2 separate regions of the Homo sapiens genome follow, and region 1 is linked to region 2. Evidence: fine-mapped expression QTL. A gene starts in region 2. The other region holds a variant in brackets. All regions are shown on one strand. Distances are between the middles of the regions. Region 1 has its middle 110 kb from the start of LPAR1. Region 2 holds the start of LPAR1 (lysophosphatidic acid receptor 1).

What was found.
Region 1: its variant is fine-mapped to the expression of LPAR1 in whole blood (TOPMed, PIP 0.99).

Annotation. Positions count from the first base shown.
Region 1 is chr9:111,148,715-111,151,632 of GRCh38, reverse strand. No RefSeq gene overlaps it. Among named protein-coding and RNA genes, the nearest start is that of LPAR1, 110 kb to the right of the region's middle. The variant A/C (reference allele first, on the strand shown) is at 1,353.
Region 2 is chr9:111,036,951-111,039,868 of GRCh38, reverse strand. It overlaps LPAR1 (lysophosphatidic acid receptor 1), which reads left to right and starts at 1,399. Exons shown (of 6, transcript NM_001351411.2): 1 at 1,399-1,702. It overlaps LOC124902248 (a long non-coding RNA gene), which reads right to left. Exons shown (of 2, transcript XR_007061732.1): 1 at 2,080-2,918; 2 at 1-414. RefSeq lists a silencer at 1,630-1,969.

The sequences.
Region 1 (2,918 bases), 110 kb before region 2:
TTATAAATTATGATAATTTGTATATATCTGTTTAATATACTGATGCATTATGTATGGATATAATATATCTATTATACATAATATATAGATATATCCATATATTATATCAATATATAATATAATTATACATATATATTATCGATGTAATATATAATGATATATATAATATATGACATATGATATATAATGATATATATGTGATATATATCATGGATATATATTTATAATTATATAAATTATGTAAATATTTAAATATAAATTTATATATTTGTAAAAATTTATGTTTATAGATTTTTATATAATTATAAATATATTATAAATATATGTAAATATTTAATATAATGCATAATATGATTATATAAAAATATGATATAATACATATTGACATATAGATATATATCACATATATCATATATCAATGTCATATATCATATATTGACATATATATCATATATACTGACTTATATATCAATATATATCATATATATAAAACCTTGAAAACCATAGCATCTTCAGTATTTTTGAAGGCCTATTTTTTATTATTTAAATATTTATGATCTAATATTAATAATGTATTTTTTTTTCTTTTATTTTGAGACAAGGTCTCACTCTGTTGCCCAGGCTGGAGTATAGTGGTGTGATCACAGCTCACTGGAGCCTTGACCTTCTGGACTCAAGTGAACCTCCCATTTCAGCCTCCTGAGTAGCTGGAACTACAGGCATGCATCACCACACCCAGCTAACTTTTGTATTTTTTGCAGAGATGGGGTTTTGCCATGTTGACCAGGCTGGTCTTGAACTCCTAGACTCAAAGGATCTTCTCATCTTGGCCTCCCAAAGTGCTGGGATTACAGGTGTGAGCTACTGTGACTGACTGTATGTAATAATATTTTAAGATAGGTACTACTTATTATTTTTCCCTATGTGTAAGTATTTTAAATGTTAAAAAAATTTTAGGATAAGAACTATATTTTGTTTTGCTAATAAGCAGAAAAACAGAGACTTAGAGAAGCAGAGCTAGGATTCGAATCAAGTATATATGACTCCAAAGCCCAGACTCCTATTCATTAGAGCACAGTACTTTAATAAGTTCACATCTGTGAGTCCTTTTCAGAGTCATTAAACTCTGTTTAGCTCTCAGCATTTTGTATATTTTGGCTTGTTTTCTTTTAAATACCATATGGCTTTTTAAGAATGGAGATATAATCTTACAACTAATCACTATCCTAAGAAAATTAATAAATTTTGCTGAGCTGATAGTAAGAGTAACTGATAGTAAAAGTGACAGTAATTGGAAACATTTGTAAGATATTTCACATTTCGCAAACTGTTTTTCACATGTCCACATTTGC[A/C]ACATATTGTGAAACAAAAATATAGTTTACGAAACAACATGTATTGCTGATGCTAATAAGTTTTCCAAAATTCATACAATGGTGAGGTTATAGGTAATTTTTAATTTTTATAATTTTTCTTTATTTAAAAACTGTAGACTTACGTATCCTTTTAATAATAATTACATTTAATCTTTTATAAATTTTTACGGCATCCTAAAGAGATTGAAGGTAAACACCAGACTTAACATTTTTAAAAAGTTAAATATATTTTTATGTATAGAACTTCTGTGATTTTATCAGGAACACATTAGATGCCTGTAGTTGAATGGCCAAAATTTATGACATTCATTTCTCATAGCAATCTGAAGTAGATACGATAGTTATTTTTTTTTTTTTTACGAATGAAGAAACTACAATTTAGAGATGTTTGAATGATTTTTCCCAAACTCAGACAATTAATAATTTATGAAGCCAGAACTAGAAGAAACATTTTCTAAATATGAACAAGCAGCTGTAGACTCTTAACCCCATTATTATTCCATATTGAGGGCCAAACATAACCAAATAAAGCAGCTACGGTCCCCTGCAACCAGGAAAATGAGGAGAAAATGCCCTGGAGAAAATGAAGTCAGAACTTGGAAAATCAAGTGGTGATGGGATCCCCGTAGGTTGCTATCTGCTGATGGGTGTGCCCTTTCACAGTGGAGCCAGGGGTGTCAGGACACCCTGAAAATCCAGGGGTGTGGTACTCATGGAAAGAACAACTCTAGCTGGCCTCTGGCCTCCCATGCCGCAGGGCCAATTCTTGCTGGGTGTGCTCCAAATTACCCCAAAAGGTGACAGCAACAACTGTGCTAGTGTGTCAGCCTTGGAGCCAGGCTTTCTCCTGACTCACATAAACATGGCCCAAATGTGCAGCTCTAGAGCCAAGCCTCTGTTCCCTACTCAAAAATTCTGGATAAACTAGTTAGTTCTTTCAAATCCAGTTGCTTAAAATGACTTACCTTGCTTTACATATGTTCATTTCTCTCCTGCGTCTAGGTAACAGCTCTCCTATGAAGCAGTCATTCTAGAGCACTTGTTAAAAACTCCTGTTCTAGAGTGGCACTAGGGGGAGTCAGGCTGGTTCCTGAGCTTGCTCAGGTTCTGCTGTGATGTGTTGGACAACCAGATGGGCCTAGGTCTCATCTTCACTAATATCCAGAGAACTTTGCAATTGGAAAATAAATCCAAATACCCCAAGTGATGTAGGTTGAGATGTACCAGTGTGGGATCCGGGATGTGAACTAGGGAAGTATTAAATTCTAAGTCAGTGCTGGTAGTGGATATGGAGAGGTTAAGCTTCCTTGTGAAATACTAGATTCTGGGGATGAGAAGGGGAGCAGATAGAACCCAGGAAATTTTGGTTGAAATATTAAGATGGTCACAAGACAGAGTTGGAATTACAAAACAAGAGAGGCAGAAGGAAGTGAAAAACTGAGTGGTATTTAGCAAGTAAATGGTATTTAGTGTCTTGTTAAGTGTGCAGAAAAATGTGAGTATGCTTGTAGTGTTTGTTTGTTTAATTTTTTGCTTTGATTTTAG
Region 2 (2,918 bases):
ATAGTAAATTATTTACAGCCAGGACTCAGCCCTGAGCATCCTGTGAAAACCACACGAGCTTGGTCAAGGTTCTAAGCAGTCACCGGTGGGAGATGGTCATGGTCCCGTCACAGCATAACTCACTTGAGGCTTGAAAAGTTTCCGTCCAGCTACGGTTTGCAGTGACCTTTCTCTTCTGCAAAGCCCACGGTTACCTGGTGGCCACCACCAACATAGCCCCGCCTCGCTGTCCTGCGTTTCTCTCAATCAGATCAGTCCTGCCGAGTCCCCATGCCTTACTGCTGGTGTGCTGTGTCCTCTGTGCCATTTCAAGGCGAGGGCTCATGAAACTTTTACTCACACGCTGCTATTTTTGATATGCGGTGGCCTTAGCTGTGGAGCGAGAGGCCGATAATTGTGATCACTCCGGAAATCCTGGGAAGCCAGAAGTGGGAGATGGGTGTTGTGAGGTGGCGTGGCTAGGGAGACCCCATCGAGTGGGTGTGTTATAAGACCTGGGCGAATCCCTGTGGCTGCCACTCTCCTGAGAATGTTCCCTAGGCCTTAGTCCCGCGCCGCTCCCACCCACACCTCCAGGTGTGCAGTCCCCGCCCTTAATTACTCTCACTAAAATTGATAGTTTACACTTGCAAAGCTACACTGGGAAAGCGGAAGAGAAATTTATAATCGTGGATATGGAGAACTAGGGGAGCAGACACACTTGCTTTCGTTTACAGATCCAGTGAAGTGAAAAATCAGAACTAGAAACGTATGCACCTTCCTAGCAGCAAAGCCGCTTCTGCGTTCTTCGCAGCCTCCAGTGCAGGGCGGCGCTGGGAGAAACTTTGCGCCTTCTGGAAAGTTTAGAAAGTGAGCCACGAAAGAGAGGCCACATTTCCGGGGTTTTGCGGGCCCCGCGATGTTTTCCAGAGCTTTTCGAGTGGGAAGAGGAGAGCGACAACGTGAAAATGCCCCGTGCCGGGGCGTCCACCGGAGTCCTGCCAGCTGTCCGGCGCTGGGGTAAGCGCAGGAGGGGCGGGGGTGGGACCCGAGCTGGCGGCCACGGGTCTCCCGCTGCGGGTGTGTCGACTCGGGGGCGGGGCGGGGGAGGCTGCTGAGATAATGAATGGGAGGCTAAGGCCACCCCCCAGCCCCGGCCCTGCCACCACCGTGGGCTGTCGAGCCAATGAATGGAGGAGGGGGCGCAGAGGTCAGGGGCGCTGGGGGCGCCACACCAGGTAAGGGGTCCAGCTTGGGAGCGGGGAGGGCGGACTCTGGGGGTTCGGGTGTTGCTGACTTGTGCTACGTGGAACAAGCAGAAAAGAAGGAAGGCGGAGGAAGAGAGGAGGCTGGCGTCGGCGCTGCTCCTCTGGCCCTCCCTCTGCGCCCCCTCCTCCTGCCAGCGCGCCAAAGCCGGGCAGTAGGGGCCGACTGGCGGCTGACGCTCCCTGAGTGGCGACTCCGTCTCCAGCCCCGCTGCGGAGCGCGGGCCGGATCTGGGGCGGCCAGGGCCCGGAGCCGCGGAGCCCTCCCCGCCGCCCGGCCGAGCACGGGACCCCGGCGGGGTGGGCGCAGGGGGCGGCCCCGCTCTGGGCGACTGCCGAGGGGCGGGCGGAGGGCCGGGCTCGGCTGGCGGTGGGGCGGGGGCCGCCGGGACTGGGCGCGCGGCCTGAAGCCAGCCCGGGGGCGGCAGGAGAGGGACGCGCGGCGGCAGCGAGCGCAGGTAAGGGGGCCGGCGCGGCGTGTGGGGACGGCGCCCCCTGGGCGCGAAGCCAGAGGCCGCGGCGACTGCTCGGCCCGCCACACGGCGCGCTGGGCTCACACTGTCCCGCCGCGGACGGGCTTTGTGGTTGGGGGCGCGCGTGCGAGTGCCAGTGAGAGTGTGGGTGCGCGCTGTGGGCCGCGGCGCGGGTGGGTGGCCGTGCGTTCTTGCGAGCCGGCCTGCAGGAGGCGAGGCTCCCCTGGCCTCCCGCACCCAGCGGCGGACCGAGCCCCTGGAGGGAAGTTGCCGCAGCCGCCCGGGCCGCCGGCCCTCCTGTCCCGCGCCAGGTCAGTGCGCCCCGGGGCCCGCCCAGTGACACGTAGGTGGCCTCCGGTTACCTGGGTCGGGGTGGGTGCGCGGGAGGGCTTGCGAGGGGCCCTCGAAATTCTCCCAAAACCTCGTCCCGCTGGACTTGCACCTCCGAGGGGTCCCTGCGCCCCTGGGGCTCCGCACCTCTCGCTTCCCACTGACGACTCGGTTGTCCCCCACCACCGGGCTGAGGACTTTTAACTAAGTTTCTGTCCAGCCGCCTAACAAACGTGCTTAACAAGTAACAGGAGGTTGTAAGGCAAGGGAGGGACCTGGCTTTGAAAGTTGATGGTTTTGAAATCGACGGCTCCTTTGACTTGCGTAGGACTCCTTTGTGGTGAATGGATTTAAAGTTTATTCTTGTTTTTCTTTGCTGCCATTTGGTCTTTGCAATGTTAAGAGTGAAGGCATTCAGGACTTGCTGCTGCCTGCTGTCTGGGGCCTGAGGTTGTGGCTCTCCGCTTCTGCTCTCCTCTCTTCATTTTTGTTGAAATCCGTGGATTTTTTCATAAATGTGGGTGCTGGCTTGTTTCACTATGGACGCGTCGTTTCCTATGGGGTTAGATAGATATTGGTAAACATAAATATTGAAAATGTGATGATCACATATTGATGATCACAGCGAAATCCTCTATTCCTTCAGGCTCTAACAGTTTGTTTTTCACGTATTTGCATAAGTGTGTTTGCTCAGCTAAGCATAATTGGTAAGCCAGAGGTCTGTGATTCAGAGTCTGCAGTTCTGGTTAAGGGGAGACTGTACACTTGGAAAATGCGAAGTTTTTTAAGAAGTTATTCCCTTGCCGGATAGAAGAGTGGGTCCCAAGGAAAAAGGGTGTATTTTAGAGGTATGGTTATTTGAACCAAACTA